Regions from separate parts of the Homo sapiens genome. Here region 2 is linked to region 1. Evidence: fine-mapped expression QTL. A gene starts in region 1. The other region holds a variant in brackets. All regions are shown on one strand. Distances are from middle to middle. Region 1 holds the start of ECI1 (enoyl-CoA delta isomerase 1). Region 2 has its middle 3.0 kb from the start of E4F1.

Region 1 (4,213 bases):
CATATTCCATATCACTGGGATACCGCCGGGCTTTGTTGTCGGCTTTGTCCACTTAGTATCATGTGTTCAAGGTTCATCCATGTGGTTGTCATTCCTATTTATTTATTTATTTATTTTATTTAATTAATTAATTTATTTTTGAGACAGATTCTTGCTCTGTTGCCCAGGCTGGAGTGCAGTGGCGCGATCTCGGCTTACTGCAAGCTCCACCTCCGGGGTTCACACCATTCTCCTGCCTCAGCCTCCCAAGTAGCTGGGACTACAGGTGCCCGCCACCACGCCCGGCTAATTTTTTTTTGTATTTTTTAGTAGAGATGGGGTTTCACCGTGTTAGCCAGAATGGTCTCAATCTCCTGACCTCGTGATCCGCGCACCCTGGCCTCCCAAAGTGCTGGGATTACAGGTGGGAGCCACCGGGCCCGGACTCAAAAACATGTTATCTTAAGGTATTGGAATGGGTAGTGTGGACTACACATTGTGAATATACTTACGGCCACGGGGTTGTACATTGCAAAATGGCTAGAATGGTAAATGTGAGGCATATTTTAAAGATTTTTATGTACACACACACACACATTACCTCCGGTAAAAAAGGAAAAGTGTTCGTACAATGACAATTTTTTTACTCGAGTGCCTCCCCACTTTACCATATAAAAAGACAACGTAAGCCGGGCGCGGTGGCTCACGCCTGTAATCCCAGCACTTTGGGAGGCCGAGGCGGGTGGATCACGAGGTCAGGAGATCAAGACCATCCTGGCTAACATGGTGAAACCCCGTCTCCACTAAAAATACCAAAAAAAAAAAATTAGCCGGGCGTGGTGGCGGGCGCCTGTAGTCCCAGCTACTTGGGCGGCTGAGGTAGAAGAATGGTGTGAACCCGGGAGGCGGAGCTTGCAGTGAGCGGAGATCGTGCCACTGCACTCCAGCCTGGCGACAGAGCAAGACTCCGTCTCAAAAAAAAAAAAAAAAAAAAAAAAAAAAAGACAAAGTAGAGTTTGGAGTCAGAAAGTCAGGCCTGACTGAGATTGCAGTGAGCCGGAACCGCGCCATTGCACGCCAGCCTGGGTGACAGAGGGAGCCTCTGTCTCAAAAAAAAAAAAATAATAATTTTTTTTTTTGCATTTTGTTGAGATATATTCAAATATGCTACAGAAATGATCCCTTCAGAAACTCAGTTTTTACAAAAATTAGTGGGCATAGTGGTGGGTCCCTGTAATCCCAGCTATTTGGGAGGCTGAGGAGGGAGAATCGCTTGAACCCAGGAGGCACAGGTTGCAGTGATCGGAGATTGCGCCACTGCACTCCAGTCTGGCGACTGGAGAGCAAGACTACATCTCCAAAAAAAAAAAAAAAAAAAAAAAAAGTCAGTTTGAAGTTGGTCTTAGTTTGTCCCTCTCAAGTTTGTAGAGAGAGCCCAGGCAGCTCCCTCAGCCCAGACAGAGAGGACGGAACCAAGTTCAGAGGCACCAGGAGCCTGGAGTCCTGAAGCTGTGCAAAGTTGGGCACAGCCCTGAGTCTGGGGGGTTGGGGAGGGCAGGGGCTGTGACTTACTTGCGGAGGGGGAGGGCCTCCTCTCAGGAGCCACAGCAGGGACTGCTGCACCGGGAGGTCCAGGTCAGCATGTCCTGGAAGCAGAACTGCTGGCGCCTAGGCGTGCCCTCTCGGTGCCCTCAGCTCGGCCTCCTGTCTGGAGGGAGCGCACAGGCTTCTCTTCCAAAAGTACTTTTTCTATCCTTTCCAGTGGGTTTTACCAAGGGTTCTGACGGGCGGGTAGGTACGAGGTTCTGTGCCACATGGGAGTGTTAACAAACGTAATTTTATTCCAAAAGATTCCAATTCTTTTCCACTTCCAATTGAATAACTTAGATAACAGCTCATATCCCCGCCAACTTTATTTTTATTTATTTATTTATTTTGAGACGGAATCTTGCTCTGTGGCCCAAGCTGGAGTGCAGTGGCACAATCTCGGCTCACTGCAGCCTCCACCTCCCAGATTCCAGCGATTCTTCTGCCTCAGCCTCCCAGGCATAGGCACGCACCACCACGCCCAGCTAATTTTTTTCTTTTGTATTTTTCAGTACAGATAGGGTTTCATCATGTTGGCCAGGCTGATCTCGAACTCCTGACCTCAGGTGATCCGCCCGCCTCTGCCTCTTAAAGTGCTAGGATTACAGGCGTGAGCCACCGCGCCCGGCCTCCGCCAACTTTAAAAACAGAAACTTTTATCTCATGACGAACGAACCCAGGTAGAGCGGCAAGGTTCTGTTTCGAAACTTGGGTTCTAAACACAAACCGAGCGTCGACAGACGTGGTTCTCCGACAGCACCCCGCGAGCGCGGACCCCCGCGGGTCCTGACCCCACGCCCGCCCTCCCTCGGCGCCGCCCGCTCACCTGCGCCCGCGTCCGGCTCCACCAGCACCCGCTGGCTCCCGAAGCGCCGCGCGCCGTCTCCGCCGCCGGCCGCCCGCTCCGTCCGCCCGAGGGCCGCGCCCGGGAGCCGGGCCCCTGCGAAGGCAGCGTGGGGGAGCCCGTTAGTTCCCGGTCCTGGCCCCGGCCCCGGCCCGATCCCTGCCCACCCCGGGTTTCGCACCCGCGCGGAGCAGAACGCGCGCCGGGACTCGCACAGAAGCCACCAGCGCCATCTTGACCGCAACGCGCGGGATAAAGGTCGCGGGCTGAGCTCGCCTCCTGGGGAGGGGGCGGAGCCCCCCCAACTAGGTCCCGCCCCGTTCCCAGAGGCTGGTCAACGCCTCCACCTACCGGCCGAAACAGCCGCTCGCCGCCCTCCGGCTTCACCCCGGGCAGCCGCGCGCTTCCGGGGCAGGCACCTGGATCTGGGCCAGGGCTGGCCTACAAGGAGGCGCAGGCCCACTGCTGAAGCAGCCACGACCAGCTCAGCGCCAGGGCAGGCTCTTCTACAGCGCGGGACACTGTAGGCAAGAGGCTGCCGGTGTTCGTGACCGCGAGCTCTCGGCCGGGCCCAGCTACTGCAGTATCGGCGCTGGAAAGGCGATCAAAGCACGGAACCCCTCCCGAGGGGGCCGTCAGGGAGGCCAGGGGCTGCCTGGGGTGAGCCCGGCCTCCTGCCCCTTTGGGAACAGGATCAGAGCTGCAGGTTTAGTCACCGAAATGGGGGTGGGGGCAGCAGAACCCAGCGGTAAGAACAGGCCACCCGCCTTGCTCAGCACAAGGGCAAGTGCACAAAGGCCGGACCGCAGTGGCACCTTTTTATTTGCAGAGAAATGCCGAAAGATAAGAATACAGTCTGTTCCCGCTGGGCCGTAAGCGGCAGCTCGGGAGTGGGCCTTTGTACTGTCTGGTGTGGGGTTTTGGTCAGACCACTGGGAGCACTGGGCAGTAAGGTCCCAGCTGTGTTGGGTGGTCTCAACTTTTGTTCTCATCTTAAGCATTTCCAATTCTTCCTTGTGTCCCAAACCAATTTTTGAGGTGGAAAAATGGCCACTTAACGGAGGAGGAAGCAAGCCTGGCATGGTGACACACACCTGTAACCCCAGTGACTCAGGACCAGCTGGGTAACATAGCAACAACTTGTTGCTACAAAAAATTCTTAAAAATTAGCTCCTGCTGCTGGGCGCGGTGGCTCATGCCTGTAATCCCAGCACTTTGGGGGCCAAGGTGGGCAAATCATGAGGTCAGGAGTTTGAGACCAGCCGGGCCAATATGATGAAACGCCGTCTCTACTAGAAATACAAAAAATTAGCTGGGCATGGTGGCAGGTGCCTGTAATTCCAGCTACTCAGGAGGCTGAGGCAGGAAAATCACTTGAACCCAGGAGGCAGAGGTTGTAGTGAGCCAATATTGCGCCACTGCACTCCAACCCAGGCAACAGAGACTGTCTCAAAAAAAAAATTAAAAAATTAAAAAAAAATTAGCCCCTGCTACTCTGGACACTGAAGAAGGAGTTGGAGGCTGTAATGAGCTATGATCGCACCATGGTACATACTCCAGCCTGGGTGACAGAGCGAGAGTCTGTCTGAAAACACACACACATTCCAAGGTGGCGATAAAACCATCTCCTTCTATTTGTCCACCCTAGGAGCAACCTGGTCCCCACAGCACACAAACCCTAGGTTCTCCTGGCTGAAAGCATCGGAGGTGCCACTGCGGATGGTGAGGAACAGAAAGTTACTAGGGGCGAGGGGACAAGTGAGAAGGCAGTGAACCCAGAACTAGATTTGCATTCCGATCTTG
Region 2 (4,505 bases), 30 kb before region 1:
GTCTATCCACTCCCATGCTTGCCAGTGGCCTGGGCTCTGGGCAAAGCAGGGCCTGAGGTCACCTGATCAGGATGCCCTTTTCTTTTTGAGATACGGTCTCACTTTGTTACCCAGGCTGGCGGGCAGTGGTGCCATCTCAGCTGACTGCAACCTCCGCCCCACCAGGTTCAAGCAATTCTCCTGCCTCAGCCTCCCTAGTAGCTGGGATTATAGGTGTGTGTCACCACACCTGGCTAACTTTTGTATTTTTTTTTTGTTCGTTTTGAGACCGAGTCTCGCTCTGTTGCCCAAGCTGGAGTGCAGTGGCGCGATCTCGGCTCACTGCAACCTCCGCCTCCGGGTTGAAGCGATTCTCCTGTCTCGCCCTCCCGAGTAGCTGGGACTACAGGCGTGTGCCACCACACCCGGCTGATTTTTTTTTTTTTTTTTTAGTAGAGACAGGGTTTCACCATGTTAGCCAGGATGGTCTCAATACCCTGACCTCGTGATCCGCCCTCCTTGGCCTCCCAAAGTGCTGGGATTACAGGCGTGAGCCACCGCGCCCGGCAACTTTTTTTTTTTTTTTTTTTTTTTTTTGAGACAGAGTCTCGCTCTGTTGCCCAGGCTGGAGTGCAATGGCATGATCTCGACTCACTGCAACCTCCACCTCCTAGGTTCAAGCGATTCTCCTGCCTCAGCCTCCTGAGTAGCTGGGATTACAGGCACATGCCACCAGGCCTGGCTAATTTTTGTATTTTTAGTAGAGACGGGGTTTCACCATGTTGGTCAGGATGGTCTTGAACTCCTGACCTTTTAATCCCCCCGCCTCGGCCTCCCAAAGTGCTGGGATTACAGGCATGAGCCACCGTGCCCGGCCCAACTTTTGTATTTTTAATAGAGATGGGGGTTTCTGCTGTGTTGGCCAGGCTGGTCTCAAACTTCTGACCTCAGATGATCCGTCTGCCTCGGCCTCCCAGAGTGCTGGGATTACAGGCGTGAGCCACCGCTCCCGGCCCCCTTTGCCTCTTAAAGGCCTCACCTCTTTTTTTATTTTTATTTTTATTTTTATTTTTATTTTTATTGATCATTCTTGGGTGTTTCTCACAGAGGGGGATTTGGCAGGGTCATAGGACAATAGTGGAGGGAAGGTCAGCAGATAAACAAGTGAACAAAGGTCTCTGGTTTTCCTAGGCAGAGGACCCTGCAGCCTTCCGCAGTGTTTGTGTCCCTGGGTACTTGAGATTAGGGAGTGGTGATGACTCTTAAGGAGCATGCTGCCTTCAAGCATCTGTTTAACAAAGCACATCTTGCACCGCCCTTAATCCATTCAACCCTGAGTGGACACAGCACATGTTTCAGAGAGCACAGGGTTGGGGATAAGGTCACAGATCAACAGGATCCCAAGGCAGAAGAATTTTTCTTAGTACAGAACAAAATGAAAAGTCTCCCATGTCTACCTCTTTCTACACAGACACGGCAACCATCCGATTTCTCAATCTTTTCCCCACCTTTCCCGCCTTCCTATTCTACAAAGCCGCCATTGTCATCCTGGCCCGTTCTAAATGAGCTGTTGGGCACACCTCCCAGACGGGGTGGTGGCCGGGCAGAGGGGTTCCTCACTTCCCAGTAGGGGTGGCCGGGCAGAGGCGCCCCTCACCTCCCGGACGGGGCGGCTGGCTGGGCGGGGGGCTGACCCCCCCACCTCCCTCCCGGATGGGGCGGCTGAAGGCCTCACCTCTTAATGCTGTTACATTGGGGATAAAGTTTCAGCATGAGTTTAGAGGGGACAATCATCCCATCCATACCCCTAAATCCCCTGGATACCGGCTTCTCAGTTACTCCTCAGCACACCATGAATGGAGGTCTTTTGGGGCTCTGCACTCACCTCCTCCATGGCTTCACCTCACCCACCTGTCTCCTGGTCCTCCTCCCCAGCAGCTCCCCAGAACCCTCAAGCTCCAAAAGCTCCAACCTGCTCTTCGTTCTGTTTGCCCCACTCAGAGACCACCCATTCTGGCTCTCAGTGGCTTTCTGAGCCCCTTCCTGCTTCTGCTTAAGCCCTAAAATCCCCTTTTTTTTTTTTTTTTTGAGACAGAGTCTCGATCTGTCACCCAGGCTGGAGTGCAGTGGCGAGATCTCGGCTCACTGCAACCTCCGCTTCCCGGGTTCAGGCCATTCTCCTGTCTCAGCCTCCCGAGTAGCTGGGACTACAGGCAGCCGTCACCACACCCGGCTAATTTTTGTATTTTTACTAGAGACGGGCTTTCACCATATTGGTCAGGCTGTCTT[G/C]AACTCCTGACCTCAGGTGATCTGCCCGCCTCAGCCTCCCAAAGTGTTGGGATTACAGGCGTGAGTCACTGGGCCCGGCCTAAAGTCCCTTTTTCTGTGCAGCAGTTAGAGGGATGTTTCTGCAACACCCACCATCATTCCCTCTGCTCAAAACCTTGCAGTGGTGAGCAACCTACTTGCAGAAAGCGGGCCCATTGTTACCCCAACCTGACTGCCGATCACCTTACCTGAGCCTGGAGGTGGAGGCTGCTAGGATCACACCAATGCACTCCAGCCTGGGTGACAGAGTGAGACCCTATCTCAAAGCAAACAAAACAGGGCCAGGCGCAGTGGCTCACGCCTGTAATCGCAGCACTTTGGGAGGCCAAGGCGGACGTATCACGAGGTCAAGAAATCAAGACCATCCTGGCTAACATGGTGAAACCCCATCTCTACTAAAAATGCAAAAAAATTAGCCAGGCATGGTGGCGGGCATCTGTCGTCCCAGCTACTCCGGAGGCTGAGGCAGGAGAATGGCGTGAACCCGGGAGGCGGAGGTGGCAGTGAGCCGAGATCATGCCACTGCACTCCAGCTTGGATGACAGAGTGAGACCCTCAAAAAACAAACAATGAAAGTCACATATTGTAGGACATGTTCACAACAGGTAAATTTATCATGGAGGCAGAAGGTAGACTGGCGTCTACCCAGGGCTGGCAGGGAGGGGCGGATGGGGAATCACTGCTTCAAAGGCACAGGTTTCCTTTCAGGGTGCCGGAAAGGTTCTGTACCCACATAGCTGTGATAGTTGCACAACACTGTGAATGTCGCTAATAGTAAATTTTATGTGCACTTACCACAGTTTTTTTTGAGACGGAATCTTGCTCTGTTGCCCAGGCCGGAGTACAGTGGCACGATCTCGGCTCACTGAAACCTCTGCCTCCCAGGTTCAAACGATTCTCCTGCCTCAGCCTCCTGAGTAGCTAGGATTACACGCGTGCACCACCACACCCAGATAATTTTTGTATTTTTAGTAAAGACGTAATTTTGCCATGTTGGCCTGCTTGGTCTTGAACTCCTGATGTCAGGTGATCCACCCACCTCAGCCTCCCAAAGTGCTGGGATTACGGGAGTGAGCCACTGTGCCTGGCCCACAATTTTTTAAAAGTATGTAAGAGGGCTGAGGCAGGCAGATCGCTTGAACTCAGGAGTTCTATAGCAGCCTAGGCAACATGGCAAAAACCCATCTCTACAAAATATACAAAAATTAGCTAGTGATGGGCACCTGTAGTCCCAGCTACTTGGGTGGTTGAGGTAGAGGCTGCAGTGAGCTGAGATCACGGCACTGCACTCCAGCCTGGGCGACAGAGCAAGGTGCTGTTTCAAAAAAAAATCTGGCCAGGCTCGGTGGCTCATGCCTGTCATCCCAGCACTTTGGGAGGCCAAGGGGGACGGATCACCTGAGGTCAGGAGTTCAAAACCAGCATGGCCAACATGGTGAAACTCCGTCTCTCCTAAAAATATAAAAAAATTAGCCGGGTGTGGTGGCAGTTGCCTGTAGTCCCAGCTACTCAGGAGGCTGAGGCAGGAGAATCGCTTGAACCTGGGAGGCGGAGATTGCAGTGAACCAAGATCGTGCCGTTGCATTCTAGCCTAGGTGACAGAGCGAGACTCCATCTCAAAAAACAAAAACAGGCCGGGCGCGGTGGCTCATGCTTGTAATCCCAGCACTTTGGGAGGCCGAGGCGGGCAGATCGTGAGGTCAAGAGCTTGAGACCATCTAGGCCAACATGGTGAAACCCTGTCTCTACTAAAAATACAAAAATTAGCTGGCCATGGTGGTGCACTCCTGTAGTCCCAGCTACTCGGGAGGCTGAGGCAGGACAATCATTTGAACCCAGGAGGCGGAGGCTGCAGTGAGATCGCGCCATTGCACTCCAGCCTAGGTGATAGAGTGAGACTCTGTCTCAAAAACAAACACCCCAAACAAACAAAAACCAAAAACAACCCCCATCTCCAAAACCAAAAATTCAACGTGGCTGGGAGTCGTGGCTCACGCCTGTCATCCTAGCACTTTGGGAGGCCGAAATGGGAAAATGGTTTGAGGCTAGGAGTTTGAGACCAGCCTAGTCTAAACAGCAAGACCCTGTCTCTATTTAAAATACATAATGCAAATAAATTTTAAAAAATTTAAAAAGTGGCTGGGCACGGTGGCTCACGCCTGTAATCCCAGCACTTTGGGAGGCCGAGGCGGGCGGAT

The links. PIP is the estimated chance that this variant, and not a neighbour inherited with it, causes the effect.
Region 2: its variant is fine-mapped to the expression of ECI1 in whole blood (TOPMed, PIP 0.97).

The regions. Positions count from the first base shown.
Region 1 is chr16:2,248,924-2,253,136 of GRCh38, forward strand. It overlaps ECI1 (enoyl-CoA delta isomerase 1), which reads right to left and starts at 2,664. Exons shown (of 7, transcript NM_001919.4): 1 at 2,592-2,664; 2 at 2,393-2,506. The coding sequence starts at 2,643. It overlaps RNPS1 (RNA binding protein with serine rich domain 1), which reads right to left. Exons shown (of 8, transcript NM_080594.4): 8 at 4,197-4,213. LOC107984839 (a long non-coding RNA gene) reads left to right here and starts at 2,747. Exons shown (of 2, transcript XR_001752052.2): 1 at 2,747-3,070; 2 at 4,059-4,213. RefSeq lists enhancers at 1,996-2,125, 3,056-3,115 and a silencer at 2,336-2,805.
Region 2 is chr16:2,218,297-2,222,801 of GRCh38, forward strand. No RefSeq gene overlaps it. Among named protein-coding and RNA genes, the nearest start is that of E4F1, 3.0 kb to the right of the region's middle. RefSeq lists an enhancer at 1,635-2,259. The variant G/C (reference allele first, on the strand shown) is at 2,269.